2 linked regions of the Homo sapiens genome follow. The protein of the gene in region 1 interacts with the protein of each later gene in a biochemical or structural test. Each region holds a gene or a part of one and is shown on either strand. Other genes may lie near its edges.

Region 1 (6,995 bases):
TTGTTTTAAATCAAGACATAATTCACATACCATAAAATTTACTTTTAGCCAGGCATGGTGGCTCACATCTGTAATCCCAGCACTTTGAGAGGCCGAGGCAGGTGGATCACAAGGTCAGGAGTTCGAGACCAGCCTGGCCAAGTGAAACCCTGTCTCTACTAAAAATACAAAAATTAGCCGGGCGTGGTAGTGGGCACCTGTAGTTCCAGCTACTCAGGGGGCTGAGGCAGGAGAATTGCTTGAACCCAGGAGGCGGAGGTGGCAGTGAGCCGAGATCACACCACTGCACTCCAGCCTGGGCTACAGAGCAAGACTCCGTCTCAAAAAAAAAAAAAAATTTACTTTTGAACATGATCAAATTTGTGTTTTAGAAAGATCACGATGGCAAGCAGTGAGGAGGATGGATTAGAGGCTGGCAGAGATTGGGGATGGGGACAGGGAAGACAAAATTATTGTAACTGACCAAGAGAGGTCTGAGAAGAAAAGGATATGCTGGACCTCCATCTGCCCCACCCAGGTCCAACAACTATCAACACCTTGCCACATTTGCTTTGTTTATCCTTACTAGTTGTTGTTTTTGTTTTTGTTTTGGCTAAAGTATGTAAAAGCAAATCCCAGACATCGTGTTATTTTAACCCTACAAATTTAAAATGTATGAGTATTTTCTTGCATAAGCACAATGTCATTTCATGCTAGACAAAATTATCAAACTCAGTCCATATAAAATTTCATGAATATCTGGAAAAATGTCTTATGATTTTTAAAATCAGGATCCAAAATATAAGTACAGTCTTTTTGTTAAGAGCCTTAGGTGGGTGGGTGTGAACAGACTCTTTCCAGGATACATTAAGGAATATAGTAAAAGAAAAAGACTTGAAACTGCAGCACAGCGAGGAAAGTCACATCAAGGAGAACTTCCTAGAAATCTGTGACACTAAACATCTAGGGAGAAAGCAGGGCTGGGATATAATGTATGTATTTCAGCACAGCAGAAACTACCCTCACCCCATTTTTCCCTTTCCTGCAGAAACCTCTCTCCCCTCCCCTTCCCTCCCCTCTCCTCTCCTTTCTGTATATAGTTCAGCACAGCAAAAACTACCCTCACCCCATTTTTCCCTTTCCTGCAGAAACTTCCTTCCCTTTCCTTTCCCTTTCCCCTTTCCTTTCCTTTTGATACAGGGTTTTGCTCTCTCACCCTGCGTGCAGTGGCACGTTCATCACTCACTGCAGCCTCAAACTCCTAGGCTGAAGCCATCTTCCTCATTAGCCTCCCAAGTGGCTAGGACCACAGGTGCTCACCACCAAGCCTGGCTAATTTTTTTTTTTTTTTTTTTTGAGACAGAGTTTCGCTCTTGTTGCCCAGGCTGGAAGGCTGGAGTACAATGGCACGATCTCAGCTTACTACAACCTCCGCCTCCCGGGTTCAAGCGATTCTCCTGCCTCAGCCTCCTGAGTGGCTGGGATTACAGGCATGCACCACCACGCCCAGCTAATTTTGTATTTTTAGTAGAGACTGGGTTTCTCTATGTTGGTCAGGCTGGTCTCAAACTCCCAACTTCAGCTGATCCACCTGCCTTGGTCTCGCAAAGTGCTGGGATTACAGGCGTGAGCCACCAAGCCTGGCCTAGGCCTGGCTAATTTTTTTACGTTTCGTAGAGACAAGGTCTCACTATGTTGCTCAGGCTGGTCTTGAACTCCTGGGCTCAAGCAATCCTATGACCACGGCCTCCCAAAGTGCTGGGATTACAGGTGTGAGCCACTACACCCGGCCTCCTTATCTCTTTTCTTTTCTTTTCTTTTTTTATTTTTTTGAGACAGAGTCTTGCTGTTGCCCAGGCTGGAATGCAATGGTGTGATCTCGGCTCACTGCAACCTCTGCCTCCCAGGTTCAAGCGATTCTCATGCCTCGGCCTCCCAAGTAGTTGGGATTACAGGTGCGTACCACCATGCCCAGCTAATTTTTGTATTTTTAGTAGAGATGGAGTTTCACCATATTGGCCAGGCTGGTCTGACCTCAAGTGATCCACCCGTCTCAGCCTCTCAAAGTGCTAGGATTACAGGCATGAGTTACTGTGCCGGGCCTCATCCCCTTTCTTTTTTTTTTTTTTTTTGAGACGGAGACTCGCTCTGTCACCCAGGCTGGAGTGCATTGGTGTGATCTTGGCTCACTGCAACCTCTGCCTTCTGGGTTCAAGTGATTCTCCAGCCTCAGCCTTCTGAGTAGCTGGGACTACAGGCATGTGCCACCATGCCCAGCTAATTTTTGTACTTTTAGTAGAGACGGGGGTTTCACCATATTGGCCAGGCTGGTCTCGAACTCCTGACCTCGTGATCCACCTGCTTCAGCCTCCCAAAGTGCTGGGATTACAGGCGTGAGCCACGGCGCCCGGCCTCATTCCCTTTCTAATGTGTGCTGTAACCCTAGTTGATTCTGCTGGGGGAGGATCTGGAATCATCTATTGAGCATCCCACCACTAGAACAAGAGAAGTCATAAGATACCCCATTCTTTCTCCACTTCCAACTCTCCTCAGAGCAGCACGGGACATTCCAGACCCTCTCACCACCCCACCCCCGCCCCTTGCTCCTGTCACGAGGCCCAATCCCCCAGAGCCCTTTCATGTGATGCTCAGCTGAGACCCCTCTGCCTATCTCTCCAGCCCCAGAACAAAAGGTCTGGGCTGTGTTCACCCGTACCCATCCCAAGAGGAGAGGATTGTATCTCCTTAGTGTTCTTACCCAATACCACATTCTCTGACTCCCCACTTTAAATCTCCTACCCCAAGAGACGTTTCCTAAAAGAGTCTCCTGCACATTTCACCCCTTTGGAGCCCGTGCTCCAGCTCACTGCCAAGGAAGCCTCAGAATCAGTGCCACAGAGACCTTCTATCCTTCTGCCCCTCCAAGCATATGAGATTATTTTCAGGCAAAATCCCAAATCTCCATGTAGGGAGGGAGCCCAGGTGCCCACATCCTCACTAAATCAAATGAGTGGGAGACGCCTGAAATATTGCCGCTATCTCCCATTAGGAGGACAGAAACCAGAGCAGGGGGAATTCATCCCCAAGTTCACACCTGCTCATGTCCACATATCCACACATACCTTTTGTAGCCCCCACAGCCAGCAAAGCACCTATCACAGCCAAATGAAGAAGGCATCTTTTTAGCACCAGATCCATTGTGTTCTTCCCTCCAGCAACCAAAGGCACTGGGGGGACTGGGATAGGCCCCTATATAAGAAAAGGGTGCTCATTTGCATAGCCCTTCCTCTTCTCCCTCAGAGAAGGCCTGGGAGGGGCCGGAGGAGAGGAAAAAGGAAAAACTGACAAAGGGATCCTGGTCCCTAGACATTGCTTTCCCATCCTGCTACTCAATGACAGTTTCTGGTTTCACTGGGTCACTCTCATCTTGATGCACTCCCGGGCAAGAGCTAACTGAAAGGCAGCTGCGTAACACATACCAGACACAACAGTTTATCATGGGAGAGTGAATTAAACCAGGAACTTCTCAAAAAGACAGAAACAGAACCCTGCATCCCAAAACAGAGACAGTGTCGGGGTATGCTATGAGGCAGAGGCAACGACTCCTCTGAGGCCCAGGATTCCTTTGCAACGAGATTCCCGGCTTCCTGGTTTCCAAAGGAGGCTCCTGGGCCAGGTGGAATTTAACCTTAGGTCGATACATATTTTCCCCAGGATTGGTGAAAATAGTGAGTTAGAAATCAAGAAATCCCTACAGACTAGAGACATAGGTAGGAAACTTGGACCCAAAGCAGGTACTTGGGAAGAGTGTTCAGCCGCCCCACCGGGGAAGAAACTTGTCTAGCCCCCAAGAACCAAACTTGCCTGGGGCGGGATCATTTGCGGGGAGGAGCGCTGGGCTCGCCCCCCGGCTCTGACGTTGACCAATAGAAAGGCCTGGGGGCGGAGCCAGGGAAACGCGGGAAGCAGGGGCGGGGCCTCTGGTGGCGGTCGGGAACTCGGTGGGAGGCGGCAACATTGTTTCAAGTTGGCCAAATTGACAAGAGCGAGAGGTATACTGCGTTCCATCCCGACCCGGGGCCACGGTACTGGGCCCTGTTTCCCCCTCCTCGGCCCCCGAGAGCCAGGGTCCGCCTTCTGCAGGGTTCCCAGGCCCCCGCTCCAGGGCCGGGCTGACCCGACTCGCTGGCGCTTCATGGAGAACTTCCAAAAGGTGGAAAAGATCGGAGAGGGCACGTACGGAGTTGTGTACAAAGCCAGAAACAAGTTGACGGGAGAGGTGGTGGCGCTTAAGAAAATCCGCCTGGACACGTGAGTGGCCTCTGTACCCGGGACTCCTAACTGGGGACCTCCTTGATTGTCCCCCCCAACCCCCCACGGGCGGGTAGCCGTCCAGGGACCGGAAGAGAGCAGGGAGGGACTTCTTTAGAAGTGGAGAGGTGGGTTGGGGGCCAGTAGAAGGTGAAGAGTATACTTATACTCCCTGGGGAGAGTATAGGGTGGTGTGGAATCCATGGAAAACTTTCTTCCCAAACTGAGCCGGATCGTGCCCCCAAATGTGCGACTACAGACTCGGGGAGAGAAAGGAGGTCTCTGAGATGAGGTCCAAGACTCTCCATGGAGTGGAGTTATGTGGGAACCGGCGAGAATCGCCTTTCTGAATGAAGAGCCCTCTTCACTGCCCCACCCTCACCTTAGAATTCTCTCCTCTTTCCAAAGAATGGCAGTTGAACCTCACTGGCCCCTCTGGGGAGGCTGGGGGCTACTCCTGCATTTTTTCCCCTCCATTACAGTCTCCCTGCTTCACCTTCACCAGGCGGCTTTACTTACCTACCCCTGGGAAAAGAGGAGATAATGGCCTTAATATATCCAAAAACCACACCCTGACTACCCAAGAATTAGCTCTTACCATCACCCTTTCTCTTCTCTCACTTTCCTAGGGGGTGCTGGGTGGTGTCTCCTTGGGGGAAAGAAATGACTAGGTGGGGGGGAAAGGAATATTTGTAACCATATTCCCATCTCTGCTTTCCCAACCTCTCCAAGTGAGACTGAGGGTGTGCCCAGTACTGCCATCCGAGAGATCTCTCTGCTTAAGGAGCTTAACCATCCTAATATTGTCAAGTAAGTATGCGTCTGAGAGGTGATCCAGCTGGAAAGGAGGATAAGTTCTGTCTGTACAGTGTGGGCATTTCTCTCTCTCACACACCTCCATTTCCTCAAACTTTCCTTCTCTAGGCTGCTGGATGTCATTCACACAGAAAATAAACTCTACCTGGTTTTTGAATTTCTGCACCAAGATCTCAAGAAATTCATGGATGCCTCTGCTCTCACTGGCATTCCTCTTCCCCTCATCAAGGTAATGCTTCTCATCAGCTCCTCTCATCATGGGCATGTCTTGGGGGACTGGTGGCAGGCAATTCAGGGTGATATTTTATGATTTTGGCCTCCTTCTGAGCCCTCATCTCCTATACACACACACTCCCCTTCTTTTTGTGTCTCCTTCCCTGCTCATTATATTCATTAACCCTAGGGTTGGACTGAACAATCAAAGTTGAAACTCTAGTGAGTCAACCTAGCAACTCAGGTGGGAGGTCAGATGAAACTCAGATAAACGGGATTTGAGAGCACTTGGTAAATTCCTCCAAAAAGCCCTTCCATTTGGTGGAAGACCTAGCTAGTGAGTCCCTATTGTCTATTTTAGGGCTGGATTCTTCACTCCCAGAGCTACTTTCAATCTATTAACAAACATTTTTTCAATGCACAGGATGTAGAAAAGGGATGGAAAATTGAGTAAGACTTGGTCCTTATCCTCTCTGGGCTGACAGTCCATTGGGAGAAATAGCTTGTAAATATGTAACTATAATCCAACATAATAAAGGCTTTAGTAGAGTTTTAGGGGCACAGAGCAAACCCAGTCTGCTCACTGTAATGGAGAAACACAGTCCTCTCTTTCTCCTTTGTCAGAGCTATCTGTTCCAGCTGCTCCAGGGCCTAGCTTTCTGCCATTCTCATCGGGTCCTCCACCGAGACCTTAAACCTCAGAATCTGCTTATTAACACAGAGGGGGCCATCAAGCTAGCAGACTTTGGACTAGCCAGAGCTTTTGGAGTCCCTGTTCGTACTTACACCCATGAGGTGAGTCCCTTTATGTCTTTTTTCTCTGAGCTTCCCAAGAGGTGTTAACTAGGGTATTCACAAAGTTACTAAAAATATCTGGCTAACAGTTTCTTACTAGGTAGAAATAATCTCTTGACATCCTAAAGAGTCTTAGGGTATGCATGGAATTCATACTGTGTTGCTAACTGGGCCCACACCTGTAATACCAATACTTTGGGAGGCTGAGGTGGGAGGATCACTTGAGCCCAGGAGTTCGAGACCATCATGGGCAACATAGCGAGACCCCATCTCTACAAATCTACAAAAAGAAAAAATTTAGAAATAAAATTATGACCAATTTGTCTCAAGTTTTTCCAGGAAGATCTCAAATTAGGGGTTCAGTCCAGAACTATGGACTGGAAATCAGTGGGAGGGGAAAGATGATGGAGGGAAGGAAACTGCTTGTTAAGAGGCCAAGAGTAAGCAGAGTAGTGTTGAGGAACTGAGATGCGGGAATTTCCATACCCTATAAACCACCCCGCCCCTCCCTATTCCCGTCCCTCAGGTGGTGACCCTGTGGTACCGAGCTCCTGAAATCCTCCTGGGCTGCAAATATTATTCCACAGCTGTGGACATCTGGAGCCTGGGCTGCATCTTTGCTGAGATGGTATGGAGGCTTGCCCAAGTTCCACCCAGCCCCCTCCCTCTCCTCCCCACATCCAAGAACAACAGAACTGCTTCTTGGCCCAGACCTATGGCCCTTCTATCACAGGGTTCTCTCTCTAAAGTAGCACCAAGGGGAATGGTGGGAAAGGATGCAACTGTTGCCCTGATATCAACCACAGTGTTAGGATATCCTCAAACAGCCTTAGTACCTGGTATACATCTCTTATCCCTGAAATAAGTTAAAGCATTTCTGC
Region 2 (7,000 bases), on another chromosome or scaffold:
TGAAAATGAATTAGCCAACAAGAATTTATTAAATGCTTGTCTTTGTTAAGGGGAAAGGACAAAAATAAGCAGTCGCATCATGTAAGATGTGCTAGTAGGTAGAGAGATATATGAAACATTGATAAGAGAAGACTACAGTTTAACAAAGTCACTGGCGTTGAATTGTATAATATTATCTATGGGTTTTTATCTTTTTGTTGTTATCTTTATCCTATTTTCCCAAACAGCTTTAGCTATTACATTTACTTTCCTTCACAGAAGTGTTTTGCTGCTTTGAAGTATATTTGACTTACCATGCAAGCAAATATTTTTCACTGTGTGGTATCCTTATTTTGGAATGACCATGAAAAAGATAATCATATGTTTAAATTTGAAGTGTAATGTTTTTCTAAGATAAAATAAGATCTTAAAGTATTTAATAATGTTCTTTTTCACAGTAGTGTTATGTGCAAACTATTGAAACAAGTATGTACTGAATCAATTTGATTTATAAGTATATGCCAATTATATGATTATTTTCATTTGGTAGGCTTGAGTTTGAAGAAACAGAAGAACCTGATTTTACTGCATTATGTCAGAAATTAAAGATACCAGATCATGTCAGAGAGAGAGCTTGGTTAACTTGGGAGAAAGTTTCATCTGTGGATGGAGTATTGGTAAGGATTTTCTTAAAACGTTTTGAAATTTTTTTTTCTCATTTTAAAAACAACTTCAAATCACTATACAAAAATTGAAAGATAGAAAAATATAAAGACAATAAAAGCTAATAATAATTCCATTACCCAGAGGAAATTTACCTCTGCTAACATTAAAAATGTTTGAGGCCGGGCACGGTGGTTCATGCCTGTAATCCTACCACTTTGGGAGGCTGAGGCAGGTGGATTGCCTGAGCTCAGGAGTTCGAGACCAGCCTGGGCAACATGGTGAAACCCTGTCTCTACTAAAATACAAAAAAAAAAAAAAAAATTAGCAGGGTGTGGCGTGCGCCTGTAGTCCCAGCTATTTGGGAAGCTGAGGCAGGAGAATTGCTTGAACCCAGGAGGTGGAGGTTACAGTGAGCCGAGATCGTGCCACTGCACTCCAGCCTGGCAACAGAGCGAGAGTCTGTCTCAAAAAAAAAAAAAGTTTGAAAAAAATTCCTCCATAAATGCCTCCCACCAAACTATTTTAAAGCAGGTCTTAGTTATATTTTATTCACTATGATACAAGGACTTTTAAAAAAACACCGCCATACCTTATAAAATAATTTTTATACCTTCTAATATGCAATCAGTGTTCAGATTTCCTGACTGACTCAGAATTAGTTTTGTTAGAATTCAGGATCTTGAAAATATATTGATATATTCCTTTCATTTTTTCTTTGCGTAAGTATAGATGTATATGTTTAATAAAAGGAGCAAATAATTACTAGAGTTTTATATGTACTGGGGCAATAGTATAAGAATTTTACATAGCCGGGCATGGTGGTGTGTGCCTATAGTCCCAGCTACTTGGGAGGCTGAGGTGGGACGATCACTTGAACCTGGGAGGTGGAGGTTACAGTAAGCCAAGATCGCACCACTGCACTCCAGCCTGGGCAACACAGGAAGACCCTGTTGCAAAAAAAAATAAATAAAAATAAGGCTGGGCGTGGTGGCTCAAACCTGTAATCCCAGCACTTTGGGAGGCCCAGGCAGGTGATCACTTGAGGTCAGGAGTTCTAGACCAGCCTGGCCAACATGGTGAAACCCCATCTCTACTAAAAATACAAAAATTAGCCAGGCATGGTAGCAGATGCCTGTAATCTCAGCTACTTGGGAGGGTGAGGCAGGAGAATTGCTTGAACCTGGGAGGCAGAGTTTGCAGTGAGCCGTGATCATGCCACTGCACTCCAGACTAGGCAACAGAGAAGACTCCATCTCAAAAAAAAAACAAAAAAAACCCCAGAACTTTACAAATCTACGAATAACTCATTTAAAAATCATTGAGATATGAAATATAAAATCTTTTTTTATGTGTAAAATGTGAAATGTTCATTTAACAGATGAAGACACTGAGTAGAGTGAGGTTGAGTAACTTGACCAAGGTCCCTAGGAAATAAGATCTCAAATATAAATTTGAGATTATACATGTAGTTATGTATAGTTACCTGTAGTTACACATAGTTTTGTATTTTCCTGTTTTTTTCTCATATGAGCATTTTCTTATTAAAGTTTTTTTGTAATATAGTTTCTAGTGATAGTATAATATTTTAGCTAGTGGATGTATTTTAATTTGTTAACTCTTACTGGATATTTGGGTTTTTTCCAACTTTTTGATGCTATAAAATAATGTAATAAACATTTGTATTCGTAAGAATAATGCCTGGCACAAAGTGAGTCCTTGATAACTTGTTAAATAAATTAATGAATGAATCTCTGATTATTTTATTAGAATAAATTCTTATAAGTTGAATTACTAAATCAAAAGCTATGAACATTTTTATGACTCTTGATGATTATTGCTAGATTACACTTCAGACAGATACTTTTAATGAATTTACTTTCTCAACATAGTAGTATAAGAGTATATATCTGTTTTTACTGATCTGATTAACACAGCGGAATGTGTTTATGTATGTCCCATAAGAAAATTGTTTAAAACCATTAAATAAAATCTCTGGCAGTAAAAAGGAGAAAACAAGTGTCATGATTTCCAAAGAATTGAACATAGTCTCACATTTCTTATGTAAAAAGAGAGGAATACTGAAGTATCTTGAATGTATGACTTGGGTATTATAATCCCCAGGCATCTAATGTATATTTTAACTGACTTGGGTACCTCATGTACAAAGCTGTTTTTGTGCATATACAATTAAATGGGATCAGAGCTCCTTCACTTTTCTCTTCCTAAAATACTAGATTTTTAGTGTTCAGAAATTTTGGAAGGGATAGCTGATTATAAAGAGCATTAGTGAATATACATACTGTAGTTTTCAATTTATAAGTGCATTGTGTTCCAAATCTGTTTGCAAGTTTGATATAGTAGTTAGGTTTCCAGCCTGGTTCACATAACTTATTTTTTTTTGTACTAAACTATAACAATAATAGTTTTAACAGTAGAGGCTCTTTTGAGCTTCAGAATTGAATACATATATAAGCAAATGTTACTGCTTTATTACCCTTTTTCATCCTGGCTTTGTCTCTACCTTCCCTGGGAACTGGCCCAGTTTGAATCTTATTTCCTAATGGAGCTCATAATGGGGACTAGGATGTGTGAAATTATTTATGGCTAGGTACTGGAGGAAGGTAAGAAAGGAATTTCATGTTATTTTTGGGATTTGAGGTGTGCTTTTGAAGGGTATGATGGAAGATGATGTCCTGTTGTCCTGTTGTAAATCAACAGACTTTTCCTTGAAATATGATTTTAAGTTAGAGTTACGTTTTTGAGGTTTGGCCTGAGAATTTAACCTTCATTTATATAATAATATCTAAGGGAGAATGTGATACAGTGTGTTCTAAGAAGCAAATGTAATGACAGAATAAATGTGTTTCCAGTGCAGCTATTCTAGTGGCAGTTGTCTCTCTTCTTTGAAACAAGAGGAGGAATATTGTCAAAAAGGAAACCCTTTTTAACAATAGAAAGTAGGTGATGTTTATTGGGATAGAGGATGGGTTAAGAGCAAGGATTAAGAGTCAAACAGATATACCATGTCCGAACTCCATTATCTTGAACATGTTATCTACAATTTTCAAGCCTTAGTTTTCTTACCTGTAAAAGGGACTGACAGTAATTTCTGGATCTTGGAGTTATGTGCAGATTAAATAAATTAATGCATATAAAGCTCTTATTAGAGTCAATGAGTATGTATATTAGGTCTTGCAAACAGAATAATTTTACTTAAGAAATACCCCAGAAAATTTTATCATTGATGTATTTTTTTTTAGGAGAACTTAGGATATCAGTTAAAATGGTTACAATTTTAAATGCATTGTAGTGATTTTGATGTAGTAATGTTTGTTAAAATTCTTATTTTTAAGTACTTTAGCATCAGAAAAGTTGTTTATGCATACATGAAAGCATATATTAATCCCTTTAAAGGAAAAGTTTGTGGTATTTTGTCTAGAAAAGTGTTTTCTTTTTTTAAAATAAATATTTAGTAAAGTGTAATAATAAAGATTAGCTTTGTTCATAAGGTTAGATTGTATTTATGCTGATTATAGCATATGAATAGGACTTTCCATTAAGAAATTGGCTAAGGTGATGTTCATATTGTGACTTAAGGTGAATCAGCTGTTAGAATTTTGGTTTACTTTCTGCATCTTGATTGGTAGTATGGTAGAATGGAAAATGCCTTGGACCTCAAGGCAGGAAACTTTGGTTGTAATTATATTGTAGCTATATGATTTTAGGCAAATTGGTTAATTCTGTGAGTCTCAGTTTGCTCACCTGTAAGGCAGAAATAATGCCTGAATGTGAACCTCATAGGCTTTTTGTTATACATACATATATATGTATATGAAATGTATGATATACATATCTCAAAGAGCTTTGGGATATATTGCTCTTGATAGAACCACTTACTTATTTTTGTGATATGGTGGTTATATTTTAAATAAATACAGTCATGTGTTGCTTAACAATGGGAACACATCTGAGAAATGCATCATTAGGTGATTTCATCGTTGTGTGAACATCATAGCATGTACTTACACAAACCTGGATGGTATAGCCTATGACACACCTATGCTGTGTGGTATATAGCATGTTGCTCCTAGTCTGCAAATGTGTACAGCATGTTACTGTACTGAACATTGTAGGCAATTGTAACACAATGGTAAGTATTTGTATATCTATACATAGAAAAGGTACAGTAGATCATCCATATCCTTACTGATTTTCTTTCTATGTGTTTTACTAATTATTGAGGGAGAAATATGAAGCCTCCAACTATAATTAGAATGGTCCTTTTAAATTCTGTTTTTTATTAATGTATTTTTTATTTTATTTTATTTTGAGATGGAGTCTTGCTCTGTCACCCAGGCTGGAGTGCGTGGCACGATCTCGGCTCACTGCAACCTCTGCCTCCCGGGTCCAAGCGATTCTCCTGTCTCAGCCTCCCGAGTAGCTGGGATTATAGGCATGCGCCACCACACCCGGCTAATTTTTGTATTTTTAGTAGAGACGGGGTTTCACCGTGTTAGTCAGGCTGGTCTCGAACTCCTGACCTCATGATCTGCCCTCGGCCTCCCAAAGTGCTGGCATTACAGGCGTGAGCCACTGTGCCTGGCCTTTATTAGTGTATTTTAAAGCTTTATCCTTGGGTACATACAAGTTTAGAATTTTTATGCCTTTTAGGTAAATTGGTACCTTTATCATTATGTAATGTGCTTTTTTATCCAAATTTATATCTTTTGTTCTGCAGTGTCCACATATCGATTCCACTTTTCTTGTGATCACTCTTTACAATGTGTATCGTTTACCTTCATTTTGATTTTAACCTATTTCTTTTTTATATTTAAATGGATTTTTGTTGTTTTGTAATCAGCATTCATTAAAAATTTTTAGCTGAATACTTTTTACTTTTGTTAGGGTTCCCTGTGTCTCTTCCTTTCATGTTGTGCCACAGATGAGCCATTATTTATATCTTTTCTCTCATTGGAGGTTCCTTTTTTTAGGGGAAATTAAATAATCTGAAATATAAGGAAAGGATATGTTGATTTCAAGAAAGGTTGTTTTTGTTCCTTATCTGGCTTGTTCTTGTTGTGAGGGTGGGAGCAATACTCTTTGCAGCTTTCTGCATTCTAGGAAGAAGTGGAATTTTACACTACCATTTGCTTTCTTTACAGGTTTACCTTGGTATTCAGTGTCTGTCCATAGGACTAATTAAAACTATACCAGACTCCTTCTATTTTAAACCTATCCGTTCAGTCTCAAGTTATCTTTTTGCATTGCCTCTCACGTCTGTCCCTTCATTTCTTTTACCAGCAGTGCTTGGTTTTTACTGTTTGCTTTGGTTTTAATTTCCTTTTTATTTTTTTAATTTCAGAAGGTGGAAGCTTATGTCATTGACTTGAGCATTTTTTATGCATGTTTTAGTGCCTCTTTCTGACTAGTCTCTTCTTTTCTCCATCCAATCCATCCTGTGCCTGATTTTTAGAAAAGACTGGTGTACAGTTTGCCCCTTTTGCTTTAAAATTTATTTTTCATTGTTACAACCCACTCTCAGTAGCCTCCATTGTAACACCCTCCCATGCTCCCACCACCATTATGAAGAAGTAAAGTCCAAACTTTCTCAGTATTTGTAGTTCTTCATGGTCTGTGCTTTAACCTTCCTTCCAGTCTTATTTTTTATTTCCATTGTTGGCCCCCAATGCCTGTGTTCTCTTCCCTTCCATATGAATCTTCCATATGAATATCTTCCATATGAATATGATAGTATTCATATTCATGCGATCTCCCCTTTTTTTGGAATACCCTTCTTTTTTCTTTTAGCCTAAATTCTGTTTTTAAGATGCAGTTAAAGCTTCTCCTTTATGCATATCTCTTATAAGATATATTATTTGCAGACTTTTCCCCCCATTCTGTGAGTTGCCTTTTCACTTTCTTGATGATGTCATTTGCAGCGTAGGATTTTAATTTTGATGAAGTCCAGTTTTCTATTTTTTTTTTGGTGGTGGTTTTTTTTTTGGTTGCTTGGGCTTTTGATGTTGTATCTAAGAAGGCCTTGACTAACCCAAGGTCATGAAGACTTATTCTGTGCTTTCTTCTAAAAGTCATATGGTTTTTAGTTCTTGTCAGTCTTGGGTTTTTTTTTGTTTTTTTTTTTTGAGTTAATTTTTGTGTATGATGTGAGGAAGAGGTCTAACTCCAGTCTTTTGAATGTGGATATCCAGTTGTCTCTGCACCACTTATGGAAAAGACTATTCTTTCTTCATTGAATTGTTTTGGTGCCCTTGATGAAAATCAGTTGACTATAAAAACCAGGGTTTATTTCTGGAGTCTCAGTTCTATTCCATTGCTCTGTATGTTTATTCTTTTT

The links. Proteins that work in one complex are often made in the same cells at the same time.
Region 2: of the proteins of CDK2 (region 1) and RB1, one has a biochemical effect on the other in vitro, tested with the Homo sapiens proteins (35 studies listed by BioGRID and IntAct).

Annotation. Positions count from the first base shown.
Region 1 is NC_000012.12:55,962,835-55,969,829, forward strand, and holds the start of CDK2 (cyclin-dependent kinase 2), read left to right. Parts: upstream 1-3,995; 5' UTR 3,996-4,174; coding exon 4,175-4,290; intron 4,291-5,022; coding exon 5,023-5,100; intron 5,101-5,214; coding exon 5,215-5,335; intron 5,336-5,943; coding exon 5,944-6,114; intron 6,115-6,640; coding exon 6,641-6,742; intron 6,743-6,995. Other genes in the region: melanocyte protein PMEL isoform 1 preproprotein, read right to left, coding at 3,102-3,177. UniProt on the Homo sapiens protein: Serine/threonine-protein kinase involved in the control of the cell cycle; essential for meiosis, but dispensable for mitosis. Phosphorylates CABLES1, CTNNB1, CDK2AP2, ERCC6, NBN, USP37, p53/TP53, NPM1, CDK7, RB1, BRCA2, MYC, NPAT, EZH2.
Region 2 is NC_000013.11:48,306,751-48,313,750, forward strand, and holds part of RB1 (retinoblastoma-associated protein), read left to right. Parts: intron 1-529; coding exon 530-656; intron 657-7,000. UniProt on the Homo sapiens protein: Tumor suppressor that is a key regulator of the G1/S transition of the cell cycle. The hypophosphorylated form binds transcription regulators of the E2F family, preventing transcription of E2F-responsive genes.